Linked DNA regions of Homo sapiens. The protein of the gene in region 1 interacts with the protein of each later gene in a biochemical or structural test. Each region holds a gene or a part of one and is shown in the gene's direction. Other genes may lie near its edges. The genes, in order: SAE1 and ETV4.

Region 1 (15,526 bases):
TAAACCATTGCCTCTGGAGACTGAAGGTGCTATTGTTGGGTTTGAATTCTAGCTCCACCACATCTAGCTGGATGAGCAGTAGAGACTCACACCCCCTCATTGAGCTTGCCTGCCTGTAAAATGGGGTTAGTAATATCTCCCTTGGTGGTTGCTTGTGAGGAGGTGTAGAGAAGTGTTTTTCCAATTTGTGCCTAAAAATGACCTGAGTGACTAACTGAAAATGCAGAGTGGCCTGGAGGCTTCGTGGTGCCCTAGCTTTCACCCCTAGTGATTCTCATTTAGGTCTGAGGCGAGCTCAGGAGTATGTGCATTTAAAAGGTGTTTTAGGGCTGGACGCAGTGGCTCATGCCTGTAATCCCAACACTTTGGAAGGCTGAGGCAGGCGGATCATCTGAGGTCAGGAGTTTGAGACTAGCCTGGCCAACATGGCAAAACTCTGTCTGTACTCAGTATACAAAAATTAGCCAGGCATGTTGGTGTGCACCTGTAATCCCAGCTACTCGGGAGGCTGAGGCACAAGAATCGCTTGAATCTGGGAGGTGGAGTTTGCAGTGAGCTGAGATGGCACCACTGCACTCCAGCCTGGGCAACAGAGTGAGACTTTGCCTTAAAAAGAAATAAATTAATGAAAGGTGTTTCAGGAGATTATGATTTAGATGGTCCACAGACATCACTTTAAAAAACACTGGATCAGGCCAGGCACAGTGGCTCATGCCTGTAATCCCAGCACTTTGGGAGGCTGAGGCGGGCAGATCATGAGGTCAGGAGATCGAGACCATCCTGGCTAGCACGGTGAAACCCCATCACTACTAAAGACACAAAAAATTAGCAGGGCTTGGTGGCGGGCGCCTGTGGTCCCAGCTACTCGGGAGGCTGAGGCAAGAGAATGGCGTGAACCTGGGAGGCGGAGCTTGCAACGAGCCGAGATCATGCCACTGCACTCCAGCCTTGGCAACAGAGTGAGACTCCGTTTCAACAACAACAACAACAAAAACAAACAAAAACAAACAACACTGGATCAGAGAGAATGTGGGCAGACTGCTTTGTATAGTGCTTGAACCTAACAAGTATCCAGTAATTAGGAATAATGATCTGACATGCTGTTTGTTTGTTTGTGTGTTTTTGCGAGACGAGTCTTGCTGTGATGCCCAGACTGGAGTGCAATGGCGCAATCTCCGCACACTGCAACCTCCGCTTCCCGGGCTCAAGTGATTCTCCTGCCTCAGCCTCTGAAGTAGCTGGGATTACAGGCACGCACCACCACGCCTGGCTAAGTTTTGTTTTGTTTTTTTTTTGAGACGGAGTTTAGCTCTTGTTGCCCAGGCTGGAGTGCAATGGCGTGATCTTGGCTCACTGCAACCTCTGCCTCCCAGGTTCAAGCAATTCTCCTGCCTCAATCTCCCGAGTAGCTGGGATTACAGGCATGCAACACCATGCCTGGCTAATTTAACGTTTTTAGTAGAGACCGGGTTTCTCCATGTTGGTCAAGCTGGTCTTGAACTCCGACCTCAGGTGATCCTCCCACCTCGGCCTCCCAAAGTGCTGGGATTGCAGGCGTGAGCCACCGCACCCGGCCATGCCTGGCTAAGTTTTGTTATTTTTAGTAGAGATGGGGTTTCACCATATTGGCCAGGTTGGTCTCGAACTCCTGACCTCAGGTGATCCGCTGGCCTCGGCCTCCCAAAGTGCGGTGATTACAGGTGTGAGCTACCATCCCCTGCTGACATAATGCTGTTTGATTAATATTATAATGGTAGAGCCCAACTCCAATGTAGCTTTCTCTGACCAGGCTCATCTTCAAGGTGAAAATAAGTGCTGCTCTCTCTACATTCCCATGCCTCAGTGACATTTTATTTATTTTATTTATTTATTTTGAGACAAAGACTTACTCTGTCGCCCAGGCTGGAGTACAGTGACACAACCTCAGCTCACTGCAACCTCTGCCTCCCGGGTTCAAGCACTTCTCCTGCCTCAGCTTCCCTAGTAGCTGGGATTACATAATTACTTCATCTGGTTGTAAGAATCCAACATTGGAGGCCAATCACAGAACAGTGCGATTCTGACACCACAGGTGTGAGGCCACTGCACCCATCTTAGAGCGTATTATGTAGTTTACATTCAACAAGCATCTGAGAGCACCTACTGGGTGCCCTGAAGTCTGCTAGGTGCTGGTGATAGAAAGATGCTCACGGTTTGGTTCCCATTCTCAAGGTTTTTTTTTTTTTTTTTTTCCGGAAACCATAGCAGGCTCCCTGACTGAGGTTGTGGTACATGAAAGATTTCCTGGAGTCCTGATCTGAGCTAAGTCTTAAAGAACAAGGAGGGTTGTCAAGATAAGAGCCTGTGTTTTAGGCAGGGGACATAGCAGTGTCACAAAGGCACCCTACAGTGTGGTAGAAATGGAAGCTAAAAGTAGTTTGGTGTTTTTAGAGTGTGAGACCCAAAGTGGTGGGTAGGGACAGGTTGCTGGTGAAGTCCAAGTCAGGAGGGGCTCCTAGGAAGCCCCACTGTAAGCTTTTACTTAATCCTCTGGGTGGTGCAGACTCACTGAAGAGTTTCAAATGACAGGAAGGGTGACATGGTTAGCTTTGGGCTTTATGTGTAGATCAGTAATTACTGTATAAACTATGGTTGGCACAAAATACAGGGCAGAAGACCACTTAGAAGGCAGTTTTTAGTAGTTTAGGTGAGAGGTGAAAGTGGCCTTGCTGATAGGGATGGCAGGAAGCACACAGATGTGAGAAATAGATTTAGGTGGTAGAATTGGGAGGTCTGTGTATGGGAGCTTAAGGAAAGCCAGGAATAACCAGAGCAGCTGACACTGAAGGGGCTAGGCACTGTTCTCAGAGCTGCAGTTGTATTATCTCATTGAGTCCTCACAACACATCTGAGATCAAGGACCCATTACCATCCCTGTTTTACAGATGGGAAAACTGAGTAAAAGGAAGAAAAGTACTGGCCCATCCAAGGCCCCAGTAGTTAGTGGTACGGCCGGGACCCAGGCATCTGACTCCAGAGCCCATGTTCTCAGCCACCTCACTATGGACCACTCTCATGGAAATAGCAAGGATATGAAGATGAGGCTTCTGGCTTGAGTGACTGGGTGGGTGGCTGGTGGACTCCGGAGACAGCACACAGAAGCAGGCAGACATGTAGGGTTTATGGATATCTGAGAGAAAACGGCTGGTGGGCAGTACAGTAGAGAAGACTCAGGTGGATCAGGAAGAAATCTGCACCAGAAAGAGTGATTTGAAAAATAACAGCAGATTTTGGTAGAAACTGAAAGAGGCATTGAGTTGGTTTATGGAGCTATACAGAGTGGAAAGATAAGTAATTCTGAGATGGAAGCTTGGGGACAGCCACACCTAAGAGGGCCCAAATTGAGACTAGAATGTGTAGCACGAGAGGAGAGCAAAGCAAGGAAGGTGTGATCTGTGGACTGATAGTGATGAAATGATAATTGTATGTGTATGGGTTTTTTTTTTTTTTTTTTTTTTTTTTTTGAGGCAGTCTCACTGTTACCCTTGCCGGAATGCAGTGGGCATGATCATGGCTCACTGTAGCCTTAACTTCCTGGGCTCAGGGTATTCTCCCACTTAAGCCTCCCAGTAGTTGGGACTACAGGTGCACGCCACCACACCTGGCTAATTTTTTGTATTTTTTGTAGAGACTGGGTTTCATGATTGTTGCTCAGGCTGGTCTTGAACTTTCTGGGCTCAATTATATGTTTTTTTTGTTTGTTTTTTTGAGATGGAGTCTCACTTGTCGCCCAGGCCGGAGTGCAGTGGTGAGATCTTGGCTCACTGCAACCTCCGCCTCCTGGGTTCAAGTGATTCTCCTGTCTCAGCCTCCCAAGTAGCTAGGATTACAGGCGTGTGCCACCACACCCGGCTAATTTTTGTATTTTTAGTAGAGATGGGGTTTCACCATGTTGGCTAGGCTGGTCTCGAACTTCTGACCTCAAGTGATCCACCCACCTCAGCCTCCCAAGCTGCTGGGTTTACAGGTGTGAGCCACCGTGCCCAGCCTCAACTGTATTTTTTTTTTTTTTTGAGACAGAGTCTCGCTCTGTTGCCCAGGCTGGAGTGCAGTGGCGCGATCTTGGCTCACTGCAAGCTCTGCCTCCCGGGTTCACACCATTCTCCTGCCTCAGCCTCCCTAGTAGCTGGGACTACAGGCGCCCACCACCACGCCTGGCTAATTTTTTTGTATTTTTTAGTAGAGATGGGGTTTCACCGTATTAGCCAGGATGGTCTCGATCTCCTGACCTCGTGATCTGCCTGCCTTGGCCTCCCAAAGTGCTGGGATTACAGGCGTGAGCCACCACGCGTGGCCCTCAACTGTACGTTTTTATCCATGTCCTCGTTTTATATGGGATTCCCACATTCTTGCTGAGGTTCACACAGTTGTTGAGCCAGGATTTGAATCAAAGATTGAATCCAGCCTGAATTATTTCAGAGCCTTACTGTTAACCATTGTGTGGTACAGCTTCTCAGCACATAATGAGATCCCTGAAGAAGCAGGATGGAATGGGTCAAGGATACAGGGTTAGCCTAGAATGGGAAGTGGGCCAGCTCATTTTCTTGGAGGAGAAGGTAGTAAGATAGAGAGTGTGCTGTGGATGGTTGGTAGGAGGTGTTGAGGGGAGATTACTTCTGTTGTACCTAGTCTTGGTGAAGGTGGCAAGGTTATTTGCAGAGATTAATGGTTAAATTAGATGTTTGATGTGTGAAGAAATACTTTGAGAGCAGTATGGAATCTGTAATCTTACTGGTGGCTATTAGGGGATTATATTATCCTGTCTTTGAGGCTCTGCTCTGCTGATGTTCAGCCTTAGGGGTGAAATAATTCCTCTGTTCCAGTCCCCACTCATCTCTCCACCTCTCTGAGTTCTTTTTTTTTTTTTTTGAGACAGAGTCTCACTCTGTTGCCCAGGCTGGAGTGCAGTGGCACGACCTGGGCTCAATGCAGCGTCTGCCTCCCAGGTTCAAGCGATTCTCCTGCCTCAGCCTCCCGAGTAGCTGGAATTACAGGCGTGTGCCACCACGTCCGGCTAATTTTGTATTTTTAGTAGAGATGGGGTTTCACCATGTTGGTCAGGCTGGTTTTGAACTCTGGACCTCAGGTGATCTGCCTGCCTCGGCCTCCCAAAGTGCTGGGATTACAAGCGTGAGCCACCGCACCTGGCCATAGTCTATCTATGTTTTTTAAAAGTTCATTTCAAGCATTCTTAATTGTGTCTGATTTTTGCACAAGTTTGATTTTTTTTTTAAGTTTTCTCATGAGGTTGCAATTTTTGTTGTTTTTTGAGAGAGGGCCTCTCTGTGTTGTCCAGGCTAGTCTTGAGCTCCTGGCCTCAAGCAGTGATCCTCCTGCTTTGGCGTCCCAAATTGCTGGGATTACAGATGTGAGCTACTGTGCCAGGCTGCACTGGTCTACTTTTTTTTTTTTTTTTTTTTTTTTTGAGACGGAGTCTTGCTCTGTTGCCCAGGCTGGAGTACAGTGGTGCAATCGCAGCTCACTGCAACCTCCGCCTCCCCTGTTGAAGTGATTCTCCTGCCTCAGCCTCCTGGGTAGCTGGGATTACAGGCACACACCACCACACCTGGCTTATTTTTGTATTTTTAGTAGAGATGGCATTTCACCATGTTGGCCAGGTTGGTCTCAAACTCCTGACCTCAGGTGATCCTCCTGCCTCGGCCTCCCAAAGTGCTGGGATTACAGGTGTGAGCCACCGTGCCCTGCCCACACTGGTCTAGTTTTAAACCACTGGAAGACAGAGATTTAATCCTTTAAACTACTTGTGTATTTCCCCAAATGCTTATAGTTGGGCACATGCTAAGTATTTAGTCAATTCTTGCCACTGTTAATCAGTCATTTGTTAGCAGTTACAAATTTGCATAGAAGAAGAAAGCATGGATTTTTTTGTTGACAGTGAATTTTCTTTATAAACACAAGGGGGTGCTCTTTAACCATCAATGACCAGTTTAAAAAAAGTTTAAAGTCATTTTAAAGCCTTAGAAGGAAGCCTGCATAAGGCAAATTGCTACAGGAACAGTAATACATTTTAGGGCTGTGCACAGTGTTTCATGCCTGTAATCTCAGCACTTTGGGAGGCTGAGGCAGGCGGATCACGAGGTCAAGAGATTGAGACCATCCTGGCAAACGTGGTGAAACCCTGTCTCTACTAAAAATACAAAAATTAGCTGTTGTGGTGGTGCGTGCTTGTAGTCCCAGCTACTTGGGAGGCTGAGGCAGGAGGAGAATCATTTGAACCCAGGAGGCGGAGGTTGCAATGAGCCGAGATCATGCCACTGCACTCCAGCCTGGTGACAGAGCAAGACTGTCTCAAAAAAAAAAAAAAAAAAAAATTTAGGTGGTAGGTATTTTAGCTATCCTTTAAAATTTAAAGATTCTTTTTAAGATTTATTTTCCCTAAAAATACAAGACTTAAAAAAATATGTGTATTATTCCTAGGTAACTCCAGAAGATCCCGGAGCTCAGTTCTTGATTCGTACTGGGTCTGTTGGCCGAAATAGGGCTGAAGCCTCTTTGGAGCGAGCTCAGAATCTCAACCCCATGGTGGATGTGAAGGTGGACACTGAGGATATAGAGAAGAAACCAGAGTCATTTTTCACTCAATTCGATGCTGTAAGTTTCTTATTATAAAATCTGCTGTGGGAATTAAACAAATTAAGGTGCTAGTTGTATATACTTTCAAATCCCAAAGCAATCTGAGAGCATTCAAATATCAAATTCTGAGCTTTTTCCCAAGAAAATGTATAAGCTGTTCTATTGTTTAGGCTTAGTATATTGTGTGAATGTGTTGCTAGAGAGGTCCAGTCTGTTGCATCTGCTGTAGTTGTTGGTGACTTGCTGTCTGCTGGCTTCTTCTCTGGGCATATGTTCCCTCAGCCAGGTTTCGTCTTTGGTGTTTTGTCTTCCTTCCAGAATCTTTGCACATAACTTTAATCCATGTTATTGCAAATGTTTTCTTCCGAAAACTTAACAAGTTGGTGATTAATTTCTGTGGCAGCGGCATTTTTTTGTTAGAAATATCAAACTACAGCTTGTGTTTTGTCTTAAGAAAAGCACACCTGATCTTGATCTATGTCTGTCTGTCTGTTTCTCACAGTCACATTGACCATGTTGCCATGGATAACTAGAGAAAAATCACTGTAGTCGTAAGTCAAATGAGGCATATCCAGCCTCATTTAGTTTCACTGCCAAATCTATGCGGAGGTGAAAGGATAAATTCTTTGTCAATATCTGCAACCTTTCAGACATAGTTCCCTGCATTCTGGAAAAGCTTAACAAATCTTGATAAATGTGAAATAGTCATAGATGAGCTACTAGTTTTTTAAATGAAAGGCCCCAGTATGTTACATGAGAGGTTAGAATTTGGGTTGGGTAGTTTTTTTTTTTTGCACCTTTTTTTATTTGAGATGGAGTTTTGCTCTTGTCGCCCAGGCTGGAGTGCAATTGTGCGATCTTGGCTCATGGCAACCTCTGCCTCCTGGGTTCAAGTGATTCTCCTGCCTCAGCCTCCCAAGTAGCTAGGATTACAGGCACTCACCACCATGCTGGGCTAATTTTTTGTATTTTTAGTAGAGATGGGGTTTCACCATGTTGGTCAGGCTGGTCTTGAACCCCTGACCTCAGGTAATCCACCTGCCTCGGCCTCCCAAAGTGGTGGGATTACAGGTGTGAGCCACTGCACCTGGCCTGTTTTTTACACTTTTCTTTCTTTCTTTCTTTCTTTTTTGAGATGGAGTCTCACTCTGTCGCCCAGGCTGGAGTGCAGTGGCATGATCTTGGCTCACTGCAACCTCCGCCTCCCTGGTTTAAGCAGTTTTCTGCCTCAGCCTCCCGTTTTTACACTTTTCTATTTCATATGTGCATCTGTTCAAATATGGGCTTGGAAGGATGGATCATCTGTGCATTTGTCCTGTTTTCTTTTTCCTAGTCCCTTCTATTTTTTAACTTGAGGTATTGGGACACTTTCCATTTGGACATAAGTCTTCATTTTCTTATCTGTAGTAACCACATTTATTTTATGCCAGGTGTCCCTTGAACTTGTAGAGTTAGAGGGTTTGTTAAAACTGAAGTGTGAGGCCAGTTGATTGTGTAATGCGTGTGCATGGGGCCATGTTGACCGCCTTGCAGGCCGTGTTTGGCTGGTCCTTGCAGGTTTTATAGTTACTTTAGACTCTGCAGGGTTCCATTTGATCAATTGGTTGCATGTTCACCTGTGGATTTCTTACTTTTTAGATGGGATTTTTCCTTGGGTGGCTGCATTCTTTGAAACACCAAAGGAACACATTTCTCTGTGAGTGTTATTTCGGTATTCAGGCTGCTAGACAACAGCAAAGAGGGTCTATCAAGTGAAAATGTCCTTTTGTTCAGGAGAAAGCATGTGCAATTTGGAAGTTGTCTTTTGACCATGATCACAAAGCTTCTCCCGAAAAGATGGTATTTTGTGCAGTAGAACTTAGCCATTTCCAATACCTCAACTTACTGGAATACAACCTGGAGGCCCCAGAGCAACACTGATAATTCCACTGAGTGGATCACCAGTTCATTGTCTAAGCCTGAATGGAAGGTCACTTGGTCTGTAACCTTTTCTTTTGTCCTTAAATTCAGATAAAGTTTCACACCGCAATCTGTGGAAAAATGATCTCAACAGGACTTGTTTATCTTCTTTATCTTAACATATCAATCAAAAGGAGGGGGGTAAAAAGCCCTTGTATTTAAACATGACCTTTGGGTCAATTTAAAAAACTGGTTTTGCTTGTCCCTGTAGCTTATTTGGATTTTAATAGATTTAGCAGTATAGAAACAACTTGCTAAGTTATTTTTTTTATGAGAACTATGAAATGTGTATATGTTCGTGGATTACAGAAAACATTTGTTGAATGGCTTTTACTTTTTAGCTAAACACATTTTATTTTGGCTGCAGAACGTGACGGTCTCATAACTTATATTTTCTACACATTGAAACCTGCAACTTTTCTTTTGTCTTCTAGCCATAGGGCCCAAAGAACCTGTTGTACCAGTTTGAAACATGCTTTGAGCATGCCCAGAGAGACTGTTCATTAAGATTTATTTAGACATCAGGGCAGTGATTCACAGTTTGCAAAACTCAAACCCAGCCAATTTCTTTCTTTCTGCAGGTGTGTCTGACTTGCTGCTCCAGGGATGTCATAGTTAAAGTTGACCAGATCTGTCACAAAAATAGCATCAAGTTCTTTACAGGAGATGTTTTTGGCTACCATGGATACACATTTGCCAATCTAGGAGAGCATGAGTTTGTAGAGTAAGTGTTGGGAGAGGAGGGGAGAACATAACATTTTCTCCTTTTTATACTTTTTTTTTTTAAATTATGTATTTATTTATGTGTAGAGACAGGATCTATGCTATGTTGTTCAAGCTGGTCTTGAACTCCTGGGCTCAAGTGATCCTCCCACCTTGGCCTCCCAAAGTGCTGGGATTATAGGCATGATCCACTGCGCCTGGTCTGCTGACATGTTTTCAAGTTGAGAGATAGTAAAATGATTACAAAATAGTTGGGCGATTCTGGAGGCATATTCAACCAAAGTCTACCTTGGAAAAGGTGTCCAATATCCAGAGAGACTCCTCTGGTAGAACAAACAGACCTCATCCTCTCATTTTGAACACTGAGGCTGCAGAACTTGGTAATTCTTACATGACAGGACTTGCCGTGTTTTGACTTTGTAGTCTCTAGGTGAAAGATGGCAGATGATACATTATTGTAAAACTATATGAGTTAGGTATTTTGGCTGCAGTTTCTGACCACCCCCTCCAAAACCCTCCAACTTGCTAATTGAGAGGGAAAGACAGGCTCTGTGAGATAGGAGCTTCCTACCAAGAGACTGAGAACTCTTCTCTTGTTCAGCCTCTCAGGCAAGTCACTGAAATTTCTCTGGTCTCCAAGTTTCTTGCCTGTAAAATCAAGATGGGGGAAGGACAGTCATGTTCCAGACATCTCCTAACTCTAGTGTTTTATGGCTTTAGGATAATCTAGTTCTTTGGGCATATTATTATTATTATTATTTTATTTTTTGAGACGGAGTTTTGCTGTTGTTGCCCAGGCTGGAGTGCAATGGCACCATCTCAGTTCAGAACAATCTCTGCCTCCTGGGTTCAAGCCATTCTCCTGCCTCAGCCTCCGGAGTAGCTGAGATTACAGGCATGCGTCACCATGCCTGGCTAATTTTGTATTTTTAGTAGAGACAGGGTTTTTCCATGTTGGTCAGGCTGGTCTTGAACTCCGGACCTCAGGTGATCCACCCACCTCGGCCTCCCAAAGTGCTGGGATTACACAGGCGTGAGCCACCGCACCCGGCTATTATTATTATTTTTGAGACGGAGTTTTGCTTTTGTCACCCAGGCTGGAGTGCCATGGCACGATCTTGGCTCACTGCAACCTCCACCTCCTGGATTCAAGTGGTTCTCCTGCTTCAGCTTCCTGAGTAGCTGGGACTGCAGGCACCCGCCACCATGCCCGGCAAATTTTTGTATTTTTAGCAGAGACGGGGTTTCACTATGTTGGCTATGCTGGTCTTGAACTCCTGACCTCAGGTGGTCCACCCACCTCAGCTTCACAAAGTACTAGGATTACAGCCACCATGCCTGGCTTCTTTGGGTATATTATAAAGAAGTTATAGTAGTGGGAAGCAATCCAGATTATTTTAACATAAGCTGCCCACAGCAGAGGGGCAGAATTAAGTTTGGCTTTTTTTTTTTTTTTTTTTTTTTTTTTTTTCTGAGACAGACTTTCACTCAGTTGCCCAGGCTGGAGTACAGTGGCGTGATCTCAGCTCATTGCAACCTCCTCCTCCTGGGGTCAACCAATTCTCCTGCCTCAGCCTCCCAAGTAGCTGGGATTACAGGCGCCCACCACCACGCCCGGCTAGTTTTTTGTATTTTTAGTAGAGACGGGGTTTTGCTATGTTGGCCAGGATGGTCTCAAACCCTTGACCTCAGGTGACACGCCCGCCTTGGCCTCCCACAGTGCTGGGATTACAGGCGTGAGCCACTGCACCCAGCCAAGTTTGGCTATTTATTTCATGATTCAAGTAGAGTGTTTACAAAGTAATCACTTTGATTTATTGAGAGCAGCTGTGTGCCCAGCAGTGTGCTGAGCAACTTACGCTGCTCTGTTTTTCCCACAATAATTTCCTGAGTGCCCAACAGTGTACCAGACTCATCATGTTATCAATGGCAGAGCTCGATTTGAACCGAGATCTGACTCCAAAGCTTTTGCCCTTAACCACCATCCCGATCTGTGACCTGGAGAGGCTTTTTTTGATTCCAATAACATGATTCCTAGGGTAAAATTACATTCTCTCCCCTTGTCACCCTCTAGGGAGAAAACTAAAGTTGCCAAAGTTAGCCAAGGAGTAGAAGATGGGCCCGACACCAAGAGAGCAAAACTTGATTCTTCTGAGACAACGATGGTCAAAAAGGTATGTGTAACGTGGGGGCAGAGGTCAGAAACCCTGGGGCCTTGGAGGGGTCAGGCAATGACGATTGAAAAGGATAAGAGCAAGCACTTCTTGAAGGGGTGGGGCGGGTGCTTGTCCCATCTAAAGGGAGGCTGCCACAGCTTAGTGTCAGCCAGCTGTTGCTGTGAGGGAATGTGGGCCCAGTGATTCCAGATGGGATTTTTCAAGACAATGAGAAATGCAAACTTTTGTAGGCTCTGTCCCAAACTTTTTTTTTTGTGTGTGTGAGATGGAATTTTTTCTTGTCGCTCAGGCTGGAGTGCAATGGCATGATCTCGGCTCACTACAGCCTCCACCTCCTGGGTTCAAGCAATTCTCCTGCCTCATCCTCCCAAGTAGCACCCCTGGCTAATTTTTTTTTGTATTTTTAGTAGAGACGGGGTTTCACCATGTTGGCCAGGCTGGTCTCGAACTCCTGACCTCAGGTGATCCACCCGCCTCAGCCTCCCAAAGTGCTGGGATTACAGGCGTGAGCCACCATGCCCGGCCCCATACCCTTTTTTTTTTTTTTTTTGAGATGGAGTCTTGCTGTGTCCAGGCTGGAGTGGCACAATCTCAGCTCACTGCAACCTCCACGTCCCAGGTTCAAGAGATTTTCCTGCCTCAGCCTCCCAAGTAGCTGGGACTACAGGTGTGTGCCACCACACCCAGCTAATTTTTGTATTTTTAGTAGAGACGGGGTTCCACCATGTTGGCCAGGATGGTATTTATCTCTTGACCTCGTGGTCCACCTGCCTCAGCCCCACAAAGTGCTGGGATTACAGGCATGAGCCACCATGCCCGACCAGAAAACTTTTTTTTTTAAAGCAGCAAAACACCAGCCCTGGGTTACAGTAGCAAGACCCCGTGTCTACAAAAAAAATGTAAAAATTTGTCTGGCGTGATGGTGAGCACCTGTAGGCCCAGCTACTCATAGGCTGAGCTGGGAGGATTGTTTGAGCCTGGGAGGTGGAGGCTGCAGTGAGCCATGGTCACACCACTGCACCCCAACCTGGGCCACCTAGCAAGATCCTGTCTAAAAAAAAAAAAAGCAAAACAAAAAATTTTTTGTATTTTCTCTACTAACAATACAAAAATTAGCTGGGCAAGGTGGTGCGTTGCTTGTAGTCCCAGCTACTTGGGAGGCTGAGGCAGGAGAATAGCTTGAACTGGGGAGGCGGATGTTGCAGTGAGCCGAGACGGCAACACTGCACTCCAGCCTGGCGACAGAACGAGACTCTGTCTCCAAAAAAAAAAGTTTTCTTTGCCTGTTTTTTTCCTTTTGCCAAATAACCTTTAATAAGAAAAATCCTTCAATGTTGTCTTGCTGTGTCCAGGCTGGAGTGGCACAATCTCAGCTCACTGCAACCTCCACGTCCCAGGTTCAAGAGATTTTCCTGCCTCAGCCTCCCAAGTAGCTGGGACTACAGGTGTGTGCCACCACACCCAGCTAATTTTTGTATTTTTAGTAGAGATGGGGTTCCACCATGTTGGCCAGGATGGTATGAATCCTCAGATTCATATTTGTTAATGTAGTTTATATTAGGGGCTCAGCCTCTATTTGGATTAGGTGCAATAATTACATTTATAGAAAGGAGTGGAGAAGGGATCAGAAGACGATGGTTTCTGTAGCTAGTGCTGGAATCTGAGATGGGAACCATGCGATGGGGAAAGCAAGATGAAGGGGCCAGAATTGGTTTCATTGAACTGAGAGGAAAGACATGACCAAGCCCATATTTACTCTTTGCTTTGTAGATTTAAATGTTGAGAAAGAAAAACAGCTGGTCAGAATGTTGAGTTAAATTACGCTAACGAGGGGATTCTAAAGAGTGCAGAAACCACAAAAGAGACTGCAGAAAACCACAAAAGTGGAACTCTCAGACTCTCCAGCAAGGCGGCGTTGGAGATTTTCTTTCTCATTTTGTGTTTGTGTTGGAGTAGTTTGGTGCTGTAAGTGTGATACAGAGGAATTAAGCCCTAATTTTAGTGTCTATTCACAGAACCATAATTATCCAGAGTGAACCTTGGTGTTTTGGCCAAAACTTGGGTGCCTTTCTTTCTTTTTGAGGCCCAGTCAAGATTTATCTGAATAGCTCCGTGAATTTGGTGGGGGGAGATAAATTGTTAACAAACGGAGGAGTACAAAAGCTGCTTTGTGGGTGCTGTCAGTTTATAAATCACACCCTCTTACAAGTGTGACACTTGGCCTTGGTGTGAAGGGTTTTATGGCTTAAGGGCCTTCTCTGATTGAGGCAGGTCTTTCACATTCAAATGGAGAGAGTGCCTAGCTTTGTTAGCCATTCACAGCTGGAAGTTTCCCTGGAGTCAGTTCTGATGGTGCCCACTGGGGTGGATCTGGAAACCTCTTTTGGGAACCACTTTATCTCGCTATGAGGAGAATGTGGGCAGCCCAGGCCTTTGCCCACCATTCCGGAGGGCCCTACAGGCACAGAGGTTTTTGTGCAGCCTCTTCCTACGTGGAGCTGAGCTGGAAGGTATCAAAATATTCCCCAGCTGACATTGTTAGTCAGCTGTTACACTTGAACAATGCAGGCTCGGATTCCAACCCCAAGCCCTTAAGGTTACGAGGCATTCAGTGCATTCCTGCTGACAATCCCTGGGATTCCAAACCTTGCCTTTGTGCAGCCTCACCAAGGGCCCTGCGGACCGACTGGGCTGGACTGGGTTTTGGCCATGGCTTTGTCACCTTGCAATAACATGCCTCCTTCCGTTTTGGCACAGATGGCCCTGTGATTTCAAGGTTCTCTTCCAACACCAAAGATTCCTTGATTCAGATGCTGCCCTTTTGCCTAATTGTACAGAATAACTAGTTGGGTTGTGCTCAGAGAGTGCAGGGTGGGGGTGGGGAAGCAGCTACTTCCTGTTTCCTGTGAAAGGTTTTCTGGTTAGGGTTCCCTTCCCCTCCCCGCTTTCCCTAGGTTTAACCAAAGGTTGTAAAGCCACTTTTGCTTCAAGGTACACTTTGTGCTCCTAAATTAGTAACGTTGAAAAACAAAAAGGAAAAACAGCCTGTGGTTTTCACACCCTCTAGGAAGCTGGTGGGCCTTTCTAGCACCTGTGCCATTCTGATAAATAAGGGCTTAGGAAAATGCCTAGCCCAGAAATAGGTGCTCAGTAGTTTGTTTGCTTCCTTTGGTGCTCAGGAGAAGATTTGAGACGGATTTCGTCACAATCAGGTCTCGGGCACAAGCCTCACATGGACACTGACATGCAGGAGCCAGAGGAGACAGCAATGAGGTGGTGGTAAGGAAGTGCCCAAAAAGGTTTCCCAGAGGAAGAGTTGTTTGTGTTGGCATGTGAGGGACAAGCTTTCCAGGCACCAGAGCCAAGAGCAGTGCTCTGTCCGAGGAAGTAGGATAAACCGAAAGACGGACGTAGGGGCAGAGTTGCTGTGGCTGCCCTCACTGCCGCAGCCAGCTCCTTCCATGAGTTGCAGAATGCCTACTGTGTGCAAGGCACTGTGTTGAGTGCAGGGAATCACATCCAGTCTTGTTGTCCCCATCTATAGCTGATAAAGAAGCTATGAGAAATTAAGTGACCTGACCAAGGCCACACAGCTGTGGAAGAAGGGGCGAGAGCATAGACAGTGGGTAAGGGCATAGGCTCACCCTATGATTTACAAAGAGGGATACCCCTGAAGTTGCTAGGGTAACGTGACATATTAGGAGGATGGTGGGATAAAATATGTGAACATCGGGATCATTCTGGAAAACCTTTAGGATAAAAGGCCACTGTCATGCTCCCATGTTCACGTTTCTTTATTGTGAGTTATCTGTGTTAGGTGCTGCCAGAGATGATGAGATGCCTGACAGTGGTTACTCTGTAATAGCTCTTTAAAAATTAAAGACAAAGTAGGGTTTGTTCCTGACTGTACTAGAAATACAGATTTAATTTTACCTCTGCTCCTGAAATAGGTGACTAATTTGGAGTACTATTAATACTCTTTTCATGAATTAGTTGAGAAATTCCACAGTTGAGGAGTGATTCATTCTTTTGAC
Region 2 (15,526 bases), on another chromosome or scaffold:
GTCATTTCCTTCTCTGAAACTCCACTGCCTCATCTGTAAAGTGGCGGGTGTTAGGTTAGATGAATTTGGGAAGCCACTCCTGCTGGCCTGGCATTTGAACATTCTTTTGTGTTTATCACAAACAGGCAGGATAAAAAATCAGGCTGTCCTCAAAGGAGTGCATAGGCTGGAGACATAGAGAATTGTCTCAGCAAAAAGGCCTTTGAGGATTCATGTCCTTTGTGCCCCCATGGCCACAGCCCAAGCACCCCAGGTCCCCTCAGATGTCTGTCTTGGACATAGCTGCTTGCCTGGAACCCAGCACTGTATCTGACACGATAAATGTTTATTGAAAGAAGTGGTGAATGGATGAGATGACAGAGACTATGACCAGCTTCTTAGCTAAAACTGAAACCCATCCTGCCTCCAGATCATCAGAACCTTTGGGGCTTTTGCTCCTTTTGCTGGCTCTCAGATAAGAGGGAAGATGGCTGAGAGGGAGCTACACTTTCGGAAATCATCTACCCTGGGGCTTCTGGTTTCTGCTGCAATCAGTAGAAAGTGGGTCACAAAACAGCTCTGCAGAGAACAGACCCTTGAGGAAAAGCCTGGATTCTGTGCCAGTTTACATTTATTGATCACCTACTGTGTATCAGTTGTCACATAGCTTAACTCATTTAATCATGGCTTCAGAGGGGTGTACAGGAGAGTGTGAGGGATTTGAGGCTGTAAACCCCAGAGGTGCTGACTAGCTGAGTGACCTCAGGAGAGTTACCATCCCTCTCTGAGTTTCATTTTTAATATCTGTAAGATACAAACGATCCATTTCGCCGGGTTATGGGAACGAAATGAGCACGTGGAAGCGGAGCGCTTCATAAATGCTAGTTATTATTGTTCCTCTGGGCACACAAGCCCGGTCGCCTCCCTCCTGGGCGCACACAGACATGTTCATACTCCCACGTACACGCAGATGCAGAGACGTGTGCAGACGCCAGCCGGAGGAGCACGCGGCGCATCAGACCCAAGACCGTGGCGAGACGGTGAAGAAGCCGCGGGGTCCTCGGCTTCTCTCTTTTTCTCTCGGTTCTTTATGAATGAACTCCAGCCGCGAGTTTTATTTTTTTATGAATGGGAGCCGGAGCACTGAATGAAGCCGGGAGCCAACCCCTACATTCTGATTGGCCCCCGCGGCTGGGAAACTCCGCCCCCCGGCCAGGCCGGACGACTCTCCGGATTGGCGGGCGTGCCCAGCCCTGGGGTTCCATTCACAAAAGTCAATGAAACAAAGGGAAACGGGGGGCGGTGTGGCGGGGCGGGGGGTGGAGAGCTGAGGCCGAGCGAAGGAAATGCACCAATCAGCTGCTCCCCCGGGCTCACAACTGTCTGCTGCGCCCGAAAAACAAGTCGGTGCGCTGGGGACCCGGGGCCGGGGCCGCCTTACTCCGGCCTAGCCCCGCGGCCCTCGGTGCGGGCTCCAGGGCATGCTCGGGACCCCCCGCGGCTCCAGCCCAGACGCCCCGGCCTCAGGTGAGGCTGCGGGAGGGAAAGGGAGGGAGAGTGTCTGTGATTCCCCGCCTCGCCTCCAATGCACACCACACTCACTCTCACCACCCGCCTCCGCAGATTCCAGGGCGGGGGTGGGAGGTGCTGGGATTCAGGGTTGGAGGGGGCGCGGGAGTTGTGGGCATGCGATGGTGTGCGCTTCGCCTGCTCCTCCGCGCGCGCGCGCGTACACACACACACACACACACACACACACACACACACACACACACACGTTCTTATGTAACCGAGCCCGGGTAAAGCAGGGCTGCAGAAAGCAGAAACGGCGAGCCCGGCTCCTGGGAGCAGGTGGGACCTCCTTTGGCCTTTGGCGGGAGGGGAGTGGTGGTGGCGCTCGGCCTGGCAGGCGGAAACCTCGCCATCGCCCCAGTGAGTCGGAGAAGTTTCGCCGTCGGACCCAGAGCCTTGGGACTGCCCCCTCCCCGCCCCCATCGCAGCCCTCCCTGGACGGTGTGCGAACGCAGCCCCCTCCCCCACCAGGTCTCGGCCCCCGCTTGGGGCCCCGGCCGTGCGGCCGGAGGGAGCGGCCGGATGGAGCGGAGGATGAAAGCCGGATACTTGGACCAGCAAGTGCCCTACACCTTCAGCAGCGTGAGCGCCGCGCCGGCCTCCACGCCCGCCCCGCCCCGCACCCAGCCCCTACTCTCACCACAGCCCCCCTCCCCGCAGTCCCAGCGGAGTCCTGGGCTGCCCCGCCCCTGAGTCACCCGAGGACCCCAACCTCGTCCCCCAGACTAAGCGCCTCAGGGTGACTCGCGGGCATTCTCCCCGCTTCTCGCAGAAATCGCCCGGAAATGGGAGCTTGCGCGAAGCGCTGATCGGCCCGCTGGGGAAGCTCATGGACCCGGGCTCCCTGCCGCCCCTCGACTCTGAAGGTAAAGAGCAAGAGAGACAAACCGCGACCCTCCTCCGCCACACACACACACACACACACACACACACACACACACACACGGCCGATTCTGGAACCCCCGCCTGTTTCCCCAAAAAACTCGCCCTCCAAGGGATTTTGGTCATTCTTCTCGGTCCCTACTCCCAAGGCAGGGGAGTCACCGGGTCTTGCTAGGGCCCCTTCTCTCTTACCGTCCCCTCCACCTCACCTCCAATTCCACTATTTACCCCTCAGATCTCTTCCAGGATCTAAGTCACTTCCAGGAGACGTGGCTCGCTGAAGGTGAGTAGTTTTGTGACCTTTTCTATTTTGGGAGGCTGGACAGGGGGACACTCCGTAGCCCCTGGTATTCCACCCTAAGCCCTACACTTCTCCTCTCCCTTCCCTGCCTCAAGGAGTTCTCCAAGGCCCTCTCCCCAGGTCCCTTGCCACTCTACTCACCCCAGCACCCAGCGTGGACACTTATATTGATATTTATTTTCTCTACCCTGAGCCAGGCTTGTGTAACTAGGCTTGAGGATGAATCAGACCATTGTGTGGGGTATTTGCTTATTTGAATGGAACTTGGCCCCAGGCCCATTTTCCTGGTTGAAATTTTCATTTGTAAAGTTTGTTTTGCAGAAGCCGCCAGGCCAAGGTGCATGTTGGGGTGTTGTTGGTGGGGGGTGGGGGGAGAAATTAATTTGTCACTCATCCTCCAGAGTTGCCCAAGCATTGATTCTTATCCCCTGGGTTTCTCTTCTTCCCAACCCCCAGCACCAAACAATTTACTGTCCAAGCCAAAAGAACAACAAAAGTTTAAATAATTCTTTTCGGCAGTCCTTTGGCACAGAGAGCCCAGGGCTCCCTCCCCAAATAGCCTTGATTGTAATTCTAATAGCAAGTGTTCCTCCCTCTTCCATCCCGCTTGAATACCTCTGCCTCCAGGCAAATTCCCCCCTTCCTGTGTGCTGGGGAGTTAGCTGTGAGCTGGCTGGGGTGGGGTCCGTGGCTGGGTCCGTGGCTGGGTCTGATGGGGAAGTGGTGTGTTCAGGAGGTTTCCTGGTTGGATTCTTCAGTGCGTTTTGGTGGGGCCTGAGGGTGTCGCTGGTGGGGCTGCAGGTGGGAGGGAAAATGGTGGTTTAGACAGTCTCTGAGAGGGAAGGGTTAACTACCCCCATCTTAGGGTTTATTTTAACACTATGAAAATGAAGAAGCCAAAACACTAGGAACTCCTTTTTTGAGGTCTTTTTGAGGTATTTTCCTTAGGATCTCCTCATCCCTCCACCCTGGGTATCTAATTTTTTTAAAGCTCAAATCCAACTACCCTGGAACTCTCCATAGAAGCTCGGAGTAAAAAGAAAATGACCCCTGACTAGATCCTTGGAGTGAGACTAGGTCTGTCTTGCCCACTATGATATTCTAAAAATATATATGTTGACAGAATGACTATTTAGCATAGAGCAAGCACTCAAGACATTTTGTGGAAATAATGGCTGAATGGCTGTGTGAGTGCTGGAGGGATCTGGAGGTTCTGAGGGTATTGTGTGCATCATCCCCGACCCTGCAAGTCCTGCATGCCCAGCTCCAATTTACAGGCAGAGCTTTGCCCCGTCTCCCCATCCTTCTTCTGAGGTTCTGGAGCTGGGCTAGAGCTGAAGAATGCAGAGGTGTCAGTTTCCGTGGGCTCTCAAAGACTTCCTTTCCCAGTGCCTGATTTCTCTCTGGCTCACCGGGCTTCATTCCTTGCCTGTCAGCTGAGAGTCCCCACAGTGGGCAGCTCCTAGGGCTGTGAGCTAGGGGTGGGCTGAGGTTGGCATTTTGGCAGCAGCTGGTCCATCTGTGCCTGGGTTTGAGATGGGAGGGGGAGGAAAATGCTCTCATCTCTCTACCTTGGAAGTCCCACCCCTTGGCCAGGGGTCTGGAGAGGGTACAAATGTCTGTCTGTGTCAGTGTCGGTGTGACAGCAAGTGTGTGTGTGAGAGAGAGAGAGAGAGAGAGTGTGTGTGTGTTAGTTACATGCTGCTGCCCTGTACATTTAAATCCAGTGGGTGGGGAGGTGGGGTGGGGATTGCAAGGCGGAGGTGAGGGGGGTGGGCGCTGGGATCTCCTTGGTTCCCTCTCCTTCCTTCTGAGGGAGCAGCTCAGGTTCCCAGCTGGTGATGGATGGCCAGGTCTGAGGGGGGGATGCTGAGGCCGATCGCTCCTTCTCACTTTCTCTGCGGAGACAGATGCAGCTGCCGGGGCCCTGTCCCCCTGCACCATCCCAACACCACCCCAGCCTCCTCTCCTGTCTCTTCCCACCAGGTCAGTGACCCCGGCAACCCATGGGGAGCTTTGGGGTGGCAGGGAGGGACTAGCTTCTTTGGAAACTTGCCAGTGGTGGGACGCATTAGGAGGAAAGGGGACCAGAGCCCAACCTCCCTTTCTCAGTTTGGTTTTTTCCAAAGCCCCAATTTGAAGAGAAGCAGCAGGGGGGTCCTGGTAGTGTGGGTGGGTCTGTGAAGACAGCATTTGGAGGAGGCACAGGTTGGAGCCGGGCAGATACAGGAAGATTCCAGTGTGGTTGCAGGTTCAGTGTCCTGCGTCCGGGCGTTGAAGGGTGAGTGTGAGTGCGGCTTTATGGAGGCAGCTCACATATCCTTGGGGTTGGGTTTTTGTACACAGGGGTGAATGATGTGAGGCTAGGAGGGCGTGTCTGATTTGGGGGTGCCTGGGATCTGTTGAGATGTTGGGGAAAGAATCAGGCTGCTACAGGGAGACCCAGGCTCAGGCAGGCTGAGCCCAATATGTGTCTGGCTATGGTAAAAGATATGCTGGTTTTTTGTCCAAGGTTCCTTTCCAGGCTTGTCAGGAGCCCTGAATCCTTGGGGAAAATGACTTTGTTGTCTATTTGGTAGTAAGGGCCATTGACTCTAGGCCATGACCCCTTTGTGTGAGGCTCAGGTCTGTGGATTCCCAGAAGCCCTATGGATAGGTTGCTGGGATCCTTGATCCCTCTGATACTGTGTGTAAAATTGCTGGAAGTGCACCATACATAAAGGTGTATGGATTTTTTTAGGAAGAGAATGACCCATAGCTTTTATCAGATTCTCAAAGGGATCGATCGATCTGCGCTCCCCTTTTCACAGGAATCACTGCTCCCCAACCCTCCTCCAAGGGCTCCAGTCCCTTTGCCCTTTGGCTGTCCCAATCATATTTGTAGGTCAAAAAAAGACCCCATGTGTGGAGGGCATGCATGGAGGGCACATTTCACCCTGTGCTGTCTTGCTGCTGCAAGAGTGAAGTAAAAGGAATTAGGGTGTGTGCATCCCTGAATATGCGTCCGAGTGCATGTACACTGGTGCCTCGGCATGTCTGTGGGGAGGGATGAGGTTAATCTCCTCCCTAATCTTTCCCAGCTACAATGCCTCCTTCTCCATCTTTCTGTCTCTTCCCCTTCCTGAAGACTCTTGGGGACAAATATGTCCCCTCCACAACTAGTGAACTGGTTCCTTCCAGTACAGAGGCTGCCAGGGTGGGGGCAGGGTAAGGGACAGCGGTGACACAATGGAGCAGAAGCTCTGGAGAATGCCTCTACCCCCTTCACCCTATGACTGGATCCTGGGAAGAGGGTGACCGAGCATATGTAGTGTGGGTGGCTAACCTATGGTGAGCTTCAGTGTATCTCTGTTTTAACCTCTCAGTTCTTCCAGAATCCAGCTTGGGAGACCCCCCAAGCCCCTCCTCTTTTTTTACTAACCCCCCTTTTTGAAAGGAGAGTCCCTAAAATTCTTTCTCTCTCTCTGGGCATTATGCTGTCTTGGCACTTTTCCCACCCCCTCCTTAATCATCTGCCTCGTCCCCAGACAGATAAACTCCATCTTAGTACCGGGATGGAGCTGGGGACAGACCCTGGCACACTGGCTTGGCAGCCAAGACTCAGCCAAGTTAACAAATAAATAAAGAGAGTGGTGTACACTTAAGACGAAACATGGTAATTAAAAATTCTCCTGCTCTCCAGGAACGCGAGGCTCAGTGTTCCTGTTTCTATCCTGTTGACAGTCTCTGGATGACTGAGGGCCCTGGCCTACCCCTTTGGGAGAAGGCCAGTGTTTGGGGGAGGGGCTGAGCTAGGACAGATTTCTCCTGGCTCTGGGAAGAGGATGGCACCACCTCTTTTGGGGTGTGGTCTGTGTGCTGGAGGAAGCCTCCTCCTGGATTCCGGGCCTGGAGGGGTCCCTGGTTAAACTGTCAGGCCCGAGGCAGGAAGAAAGGCAAGATGATGCTGAGGGTTCTCTGCTCTCCAGCACCAGTGACGCCAGCAAGAGATACCCCCAGCCCATTACCTCAATGGAAAGTAGCAGTTAATGAGGCCCCAGGGGTGGGGCCGGAATGCGTCAGCCACCCCTGAGTTCTGCACCACCCTTTCCCTTGGGACCCTTCTTGCCTAGTAGGAGGGAGGGAAATGTTGGTCACTCTGCTCCCATCACCCCAGCTTCCTGCCACCTTGGGGGATGTTGCCTCTGAATGGACCAGAGGGCACAGTGGGGAGCCTGGCTTTGCATCCCTGGGCAGGTGGACAGATTTGGCCTCTTACCCTCTATCCAAATGTGCCTATTTTTAAGGTTGTGGTGGCTGAAGTGAAAGGATTACCTGAGCCCAGGAGTTAGAGGCTGCAGTGAGCTCTGATTGTGCCACTGCACTCAAGCCTGACACAGGAGACTTCCTTATAATAGATTTTAAAATGCAGATGCCTGGGCCCCACCCCAGTCCTATGGAATGGGACTCTCCGGAGGAGGGGACTGGGAATCGTGTTTTTATTTTATTTTTATTATTGTTATTTGAGACAGGGTCTCACTCTGTTGCCCAGGCTGGAGTGCATTGGTGCTATCTTGGCTCACTGCAACCTCCACCTCCTGGGTTCAAGCGATTCTCCTGTCTCAGCCTCCAGAGTAGCTGGGATTACAGGCGAGAACCACCATGCCTGGCTAATTTTTGTATTTTTAGTAGAGATGGGGTTTCGCCACATTGGCCAGGCTGGTGTAGAATTCCAGACCTCAGATCGTCTGCCTGCCTCAGCCTCCCAAAGTGCTGGGATTACAGGCGTGAGCCACCACACCTGGCTGTAATCGTGTTTTTAACAACGTCCTGGTGACTCTTGAATCAGGCCAGTTTGGGAATGGTTGTCTTTTTGCCGTGTTTGTGCTCCTGAAAAGATGTGTGCTGGCTGTGTGTTTCTGTTTGTTCTTGCCAGCGGATTTCATGTCTCATTGATGTCTTTGGTCACTTCAGACCAAAGTATTATTATGTTGACTTGTCCTAAGTTCTCGTTTAGCTGCTGGTGGCTTGTGATTGTTAAACTCCCTCTCCCTAATGCTTCTGTCAAGAAATCAACTATCTATTAATATAAGCCTATGTTTATAAACACTTGGCACCTCTGATATTTAAAGCAAATTGTTGAAGAATATTCTTGCCAAGCAACATATCACAACCTAAAATATCCCCTGTGAGATGTGCTTTCCTGGAGAGGACCTGCCTCTAGTGTTGCCTTGTGTGTGGAGAGGGGGAGCCTGCAGGGAAGGGCTAGGATGGTCAGGATCTCTTCAGTGCATGCCCTCAGGCCCACAGTGCTGACTTCTGCCAGCCTGAGGACAAACGATTATTGCATGTTTATTCATGTAGTCAAGAAATAACAGCACTGAGCGTCTACTCTAACCCTGTGCTGGGTGCTGGGGCATCAGATGACAAAAAAGATAAAGCTCTTGCCCTCACAGAGCTTAACTTCCTGGTGGAGGAGATAGGTAGATAACAAACAGGTAAACATAAATTAATATATTCAGGTGGCAATATGTGCCAGGGAGAAAACAAAACATAGATGCAATAGAGAGCCAGGAGGAACCACTTTGGTTTAGGGGTGGTCAGAGAAGGCCTCTCCAGAGATGTCAAAGTGAGCTGAGACTCTGATGGTCAGGAAAAAAAGAAAAAGGCAAGAAAGCATCTGGGGAAGAAGGAACAAGCTCAGCAGCTTTGAGGGCTAGAAAGGAGACCAGAGTGCTGCAGATTCACAGGCAAGGAGAGGCAGGTCAGAGAGGTAGGCAAGGCCAAGTCATGCAGAGCCTTGGAGGCCAAGGGCAAGCGTTTGGATTTCATGCTTTAAATAACAGAGAGAAATGATTTTATTTCTGTTGTAAAAAGATCACTGTGACACCTAGGTGGAGAGCAAGGGACCATAGGAGGTAAGAATGAAAATAGGGTATCCTGGTAAGAGGCCGTGGGTGAAATCCAAGTAAGAAATGATGGAGCCTTAGCCTAGAGAGAAGCAAAAGAGATGGGATATGTATTTGTATAGGCCGGGGGTGTGGAGGTTTTTTCTAGCCATCTCATACCCCTCACCAGCCATTTTGACCTCTCTGGGCATTTTATCAGTTTCCCCATTGTCCAATCTGAGAGCAGTCTCCAGGGAAGGAGAGAGCAGTCTCCAGGGAAGGAGAGTCCAGCCTCCTCGGGCTACAGGTTCCACTGCATCACCCTAGAACCACTCTCTTCCTGGAATAATATCAGGAAGTTCTTCTTGGTGTCTACATTTCCTGCTGTGATCCATTTATTTTTGAGAGAGGGGCAAAAGTGGGCCAAGACTCTGGGATCAAGGGAGATTCTTAGCTGTATAACCACCTGAGAAGCCCCGCTCTGGGGAGGCCAGAATAAGAACTAGAAATCAGAGTTTGATGTTCAGGTTAGAAGCCATGGATGAGCTGCTGCTGTATTTCAGTTTTCCTGCCTATTCCCCAACCCAGCTCCACCCATCCTGGCATCCTGGGAGAGCTCTTCGGATCACCAACCTTGGGAATCCCTCCCCTCCTTAGCTGCACATTAAGGGGATGAGGCACCTATGTACTCAGCCAGTGTCCTTTGCCTTCTGCAGTGGTCCCAGTCACCAGCCTCCTGCTCTCCCACTGTCATCCTCCTTTTTTATTTTATTTATTTATTTTTGAGATGGAGTCTTGCTCTGTCGCCAGGCTGGAGTGCAGTGGTGTGATCTCAGCTCACTGCAACCTCCACCTCCCGGGTTCAAGTTATTCTCCTGTCTCAGCCTCCGGAATAGTTGGGATTACAGGCGTGCCACCACGTCCAGCTAATTTTTTTTTTTTTTTTTTTGAAATGGAGTCTTGCTCTGTCACCCAGGCTGGAGTGCAGTGGCCTGATCTTGGCTCACTACAAGCTCCGCCTCCCAGGTTCACGCCATTCTCTTGCCTCAGGCATACTCCTGCCTCAGGATTAGCTGGGACTACAGGCACCCGCCACCACACCCGGCTAATTTTTTTTGTATTTTTAGTAGAGACAGGGTTTCACTGTGTTAGCCAGGATGGTCCTGATCTCCTGACCTGGTGATCTGCCCGCCTCAGCCTCCCAAAGTGCTGGGATTACAGGCGTGAGCCACCGCGCCCGGCCTAATTTTTGTATTTTTAGTAGAGACAGGATTTCACCATGCTGGTCAGGCTGGTCTCAAACTCCTGACCTCGTGATCCGCCCACCACGGCCTCCCAAAGTGCTGGGATTACAGGCATGAGCCACCATGCCCGGCCTTTATTTTTCATTTTTTGGAACAGAGTCTCACTTTGTCACCCAGGCTGGAGTGCAGTGGCATGATCTCAGCTGACTGCAACCTCTGCCTCCTGGGTTCAAGCAATTCTCCTGCCTCAGCCTTCCGAGTAGCTGGGATTACAGGTGCCCACCGCCACGCCTGACTAATTTTTTAATTTTTTAGTAGAGATGGGAGTTTCACTTTGTTGGCCAGGCTGGTCTCAAACTCCTGATCTCAAGTGATCCTCCCACCTCAGCCTCCCAAAGTGCTGGGATTACAGGCATGAACCACTGCGCCCAGCCACCCCCCTATGTGATTTTATTTATTATTTAATTTTATTTTTCTTTTGAGATGGAGTTTCACTCTTGTTGCCCAGGCTGGAGTGCAGTGGTGCGATCTCAGCTCACTGCAACCTCTGCCTCCCAGGTTCAAGCGATTCTTCTGTCTCAGCTCCTGAGTAGCTGGGATTATAGGCTCCCGCCAACACGACCAGCTAAGTTTTGTACTTTTAGTAAAGATGGGGTTTCGTCATGTTGGCCAGGCTGGTCTCGAACTCCGGACCTCAGGTGATCCACCCGCCTTGACTTCCCAAAGTGCTGGGATTATAGGCGTGAGCCACCATGCCTGGCCGCCTCCTATGTGATTTTTAAATCCACAGGATCCCACTGCTTATAATGCCTGCCCATCCTAGATATGACTGTTGTGAGCTTTAAGGGAGTTTTGTAAACTCTGAGGGGCGAGGCTGTTTCACTTCAGAAAAATGGAGGAAATAAAGACAAAGCATCTAGAAGAAGAAAGACTGGAATCTGCTCAGACAGGTTCTGAGAACAGTCTTCCCTCCTGGGTCTTAGTGGAGCCCAGAGGTGGAAGACACTAGGACCTAGGGTGGAGCAGCCTTTAGTCTCAAGCAAGCTTGTCCAACCCGTGGGCCTGTGGGCCACTTTCAGCCCAGGGTAGCTTTGAATGCGGCCCAGGCCCAACATAAATTCCTTGTAAAATTTCTTAAAACATTATGAGATTTGTTTGTGATTTTAAGTTCATCAGCTATCGTTAGTGTTAGTGTATTTGTGTATTTTATGTGTGGCCCAAGACAATTCTTACAATGTGGACACCCCTGATCTAAAGGCTGTTGGTCCTTTCTTGGCTGTTGCTAATCTGCAGGGCTGTAATAATGGAGCCTCCCAGGGGACAACCAGGGCTCCGCCCCAAACTCACCTCTGACTTCTCTCTGCAGCTCAGGTACCAGACAGTGATGAGCAGTTTGTTCCTGATTTCCATTCAGAAAACCGTGAGTAGAGGTCCCTGGGGAGAGGGTATAGGGAGTGGAGGATGGCAGGAAGTGAGTCATAGGATAGAGAATCACAAGAGAGCAGCTTGTTCTCTCCTAAAACACAGTGGGGTTTGATCTTAAAGACCAAGGCAATAACTGGAATGAAAACCTTGGTTGAAATCTGGGGCTTGACATGTTCTTGCTGTGTGACCTTAGAGCAGACACTATCCCTCTGGTTCTCCATTGCCTTATATCTGAAGTGAGGGGCCTGGGCCAGTTCAGCAGAGTCCAGTTCTAGTGTTGTTTGTTTGTTTGTTTGTTTGTTTTCCCCCCAAGACAGAGTCTTGCTCTGTCACCCAGGCTGGAGTGCAGTGGCACAATCTCGGCTCACTGCAACTTCCGCCTCCCGGGTTTAAGCCATTCTCCTGCCTCAGCTTCCAGAGTAGCTGGGATTACAGGCATGCACAACCACACCCAGCTAATTTTTGTATTTTTAGTAGAGATGGGGTTTCACCATGTTGGCCAGGATGGTCTCGAATTCCTGACCTTGTGATCCGCCCACCTCGGCCTCCCATAGTGTTGGGACTACAGGCGTGAGCCCAGTGCGCCCGCCCCCAGTTCTAGTATTCTAAGTCACTTCCATAAACTGGGGACAATTTTGCCTCCCAAGAGACATTTGGTAATATCTGTAGACATTTTTGGTTGTCACAGTTGAGGGTGGGGTGCTACTGGTGTCTAGTGGATAGAGAGGCCAGGGATACTGCTAAAAGCATCCTATGATGCTCAGGACCGCTCCTTACAATATTATTAATAAAACACTATCTGGCCCACAGGTCAGTAGTGCCACTGTTGAGAAACCCTGCTTTAGGCTGGGTGTGGTGGCTCACGCCTGTAATCCCAGCACTTTGGGAGGCTGAGGCGCGTGGATCACATGAGGTCAGGAGTTTGAGACCAACCTGGCCAACATGATGAAATTCCGTCTTTACTAAAATACAAAAATTAGCCGGGCATGGTGGCGTGTACCTGTAATCCCAGCTACTCAGGAGGCTGAGGCATGAGAATCGCTTGAACCTGGGAGGCGGAGGTTGCAGTGAGGCAAGATTGAGCCACTGCACTCCAGCCTGGGTGACAGAGCGAGGCTCCATCTCAAAAAAAACAAAAACCAAAAAACAAACCCTGCTTTAATGTCAGATACTTTGCTGTCAACTGTCTTCACCAGTGAAACAATGGGGCACAAAGAATCAAAAACAGCAGAGAATAGTTGGTTACAAACGGCATTTGACTGGACTGCGGTTAAAACTGAATCTCACACCGGCTTGGAACCAACTCTTTGCTGCTCAGCCTCGTGGCCAGAGTTTGGGAACCCCGCAGGGGCCACAGGAAAGGCCAGTGTTCTTCACAGATAAGTAGGAGCATGTGTATAATGTTAGTCAGCTGACATTCAAGTGGGCCAATATCCAACCTCAACCAGAAAAAGAAAGATTCTTTTATTTATTTATTTAGAGACAGAGTTTCACTCTTGTTGCCCAGGCTGGAGTGCAATGGTGTGATCTCGGCTCACTGCAACCGCTGCCTCCCAGGTTCAAGCAATTCTCCTGCCTCAGCCTCCCGAGTAGCTGGGATTAAAGGGATGTGCCACCACGCCCGGCTAATTTTTTTGTATTTTAGTAGAGATGGGGTTTCTCTATGTTGGTCAGGCTGGTCTTGAACTTCTGACTTCAGGTGATCCGCCCGCCTCGGCCTCCCAAAGTGCTGGGATTACAGGCGTGAGCCACCGCGCCCGGCCAAGAAAGATTCTTTATATCCTCAAATAAGAAAACATGTCACTCCCCTGGAATTTTCCAGGGCACTCAGGAAAACTACAGGCCCTAGGTTGGAGGTGCTCACTCCTTGAAAGTGTTTTCTGGGGCCTGGGGTTGCATTAAATGTTTTTGTTTTTTGTTTCTTTTTGAGACGGAGTCTCGCTCTGTCACCCAGGCTGGAGTGCAGTGGCATGATCTCGGCTCACTGCAATCCCCGCCTCCTGGGTTCAAGCAATTCCCTTGCCCCAGCCTCCTGAGTAGCTGGGACTACAGGCATCCGCCACCATCCCCGGCTAATTTTTTTTTGTATTTTTAGTAGAGACAGGGTTTCACCATGTTGGCCAGGCTGGTCTTGGACTCCTGCCTCCCAAAGTGCTGGGATTACAGGTGTGAGCTACCGTGCCCAGCCTAAATGTTGAACTTTAGATGGTTTATTTAGTCAATAATCAGACACTAGTCTGATGTATAAACTAGACATAATGTAAATAGCCAAAATGTTCTTGTCTCACTGCGGGTCTCAGAAAATTGATACCCAGAGAGGGAAGGAGGCTGTACCAGTCACCCAGCTGGTCCTCAAAGCTCAGAAGGTATCAGAAGCCCTGCCTGCCTCTTGTGTGACAGGCTCTGGCCTTGCTCTGTCCCCTCCACCCCCACAGTAGCTTTCCACAGCCCCACCACCAGGATCAAGAAGGAGCCCCAGAGTCCCCGCACAGACCCGGCCCTGTCCTGCAGCAGGAAGCCGCCACTCCCCTACCACCATGGCGAGCAGTGCCTTTACTCCAGGTGAGCCCCAGCCTGGACCTGGTGAAGGGTAGGAGAAGGGTTCCAGAGGAGGGAGGCAGGGGGCACCCATGAGCAGAGGCAGCAGCTGAGATGCAAGTTAGACAACAGAAAGGATTTTCTAGCACTTGTAAGGAAGCAATACAGCTAAGGATTTCCTCTGAATAGACGGAAAACGCAGCAGAGGGCCTCAGGAATATATACTGAGGCCAGAGCAGATTCTGTTTCCACCAAGAGGCCCACTGTCCCACCTAAACCATTGCTCTGAGCAACAAATCCCCCCTGTATGAATCCCAGGGGTTCAAGACTAGCCTGGGCAACAGAGGGAGACTGTCTCTGAAAAAGAAAAGAATTGGCTAGGGCTGAGTCTGTGGCTCCTGCCGTTCCCTTCTCAGCCCCCTCTATCCTTCCTTCTCCTGTAATCCCTGTGACCTCGCTTTCCTAGGAATGAAGGGTTCAAAGATGCTTTCCAGCTTCTCTGCCCCCTCACCCCTGTCTCCTTCTCAACTCCAGTGCCTATGACCCCCCCAGACAAATCGCCATCAAGTCCCCTGCCCCTGGTGCCCTTGGACAGTCGCCCCTACAGCCCTTTCCCCGGGCAGAGCAACGGAATTTCCTGAGATCCTCTGGCACCTCCCAGCCCCACCCTGGCCATGGGTACCTCGGGGAACATAGGTAAGGAGACAGGGAAACCCACTGCTCATGGGCCCAGGTGTTTTTTCAATTCCTGAGTGTTCTCCATAAAGACTTGAGCTGTGGGGTGGTAGAGGCAGGGGGCAGTGGAATAGAAAGGGAGAAATACTGACACCCCAACCCCCTACCCCCCATTCCGGAGCCCACTCTAAAAGCCTAGGAGTAACAGGCTCGAGGAAGGATTAATTTAAAGTTCTCTTCTCTTCCTTCTCCATCCAACCACATCCAGCTCCGTCTTCCAGCAGCCCCTGGACATTTGCCACTCCTTCACATCTCAGGGAGGGGGCCGGGAACCCCTCCCAGCCCCCTACCAACACCAGCTGTCGGAGCCCTGCCCACCCTATCCCCAGCAGAGCTTTAAGCAAGAATACCATGATCCCCTGTATGAACAGGCGGGCCAGCCAGCCGTGGACCAGGGTGGGGTCAATGGGCACAGGTACCCAGGGGCGGGGGTGGTGATCAAACAGGAACAGACGGACTTCGCCTACGACTCAGGTAAGAGACTGGGGTGGGGCAGGGTGGCATGTGATCAAGTGTTCAGTTAAGCCCAGAATGTCTCCCGAGTTTTTTTACATTGCTGTTTACCATTTCATACATCCAACCCACCCACCCACTTTTTTTCTTCATAATTTCAAAAGAATGTTATTTTTCTTTCTTTTTCTTTTTTTTTTTGAAATGGGGTCCTGCTCTGGCCCAGGCTAGAGTGCAGTGGCACGATCTCTGCTCACTGCAACCTCTGCCTACCGGGTTCAAGCGATTCTTGTGCCTCAGCCTCCCGAGTACCTGGGATTACAGGCACCAGCCACCGTGCCCGGCTAATTTTTGTATTTTTAGTAGAGATGGGGTTTCGCCATGCTGGCCAGGATGGTCTCGAACTCCTGACTTCATATGATCCATCGCCTCGGCCTCCCAAAGTGCTGTGATTATAGACATGAGCCACCTCACCCGGACAAATTATTACTTTTCAATGAGCAAACCTATATTCAGATTAAAAGATAAGGGGG

The links.
Region 2: of the proteins of SAE1 (region 1) and ETV4, one has a biochemical effect on the other in vitro, tested with the Homo sapiens proteins (one study listed by BioGRID).

The regions. Positions count from the first base shown.
Region 1 is NC_000019.10:47,143,725-47,159,250, forward strand, and holds part of SAE1 (SUMO-activating enzyme subunit 1), read left to right. Parts: intron 1-6,477; coding exon 6,478-6,651; intron 6,652-9,173; coding exon 9,174-9,316; intron 9,317-11,389; coding exon 11,390-11,489; intron 11,490-12,945; exon of another isoform or gene 12,946-13,457; intron 13,458-14,671; exon of another isoform or gene 14,672-15,526. UniProt on the Homo sapiens protein: The heterodimer acts as an E1 ligase for SUMO1, SUMO2, SUMO3, and probably SUMO4. It mediates ATP-dependent activation of SUMO proteins followed by formation of a thioester bond between a SUMO protein and a conserved active site cysteine residue on UBA2/SAE2.
Region 2 is NC_000017.11:43,532,165-43,547,690, reverse strand, and holds the start of ETV4 (ETS translocation variant 4), read left to right. Parts: upstream 1-1,350; 5' UTR 1,351-1,506; intron 1,507-1,791; exon of another isoform or gene 1,792-1,911; intron 1,912-2,022; 5' UTR 2,023-2,073; coding exon 2,074-2,133; intron 2,134-2,323; coding exon 2,324-2,417; intron 2,418-2,668; coding exon 2,669-2,716; intron 2,717-2,891; exon of another isoform or gene 2,892-3,529; intron 3,530-10,916; exon of another isoform or gene 10,917-11,211; coding exon 11,212-11,265; coding exon of another isoform or gene 11,266-11,279; intron 11,280-13,705; coding exon 13,706-13,832; intron 13,833-14,342; coding exon 14,343-14,504; intron 14,505-14,751; coding exon 14,752-15,017; intron 15,018-15,526.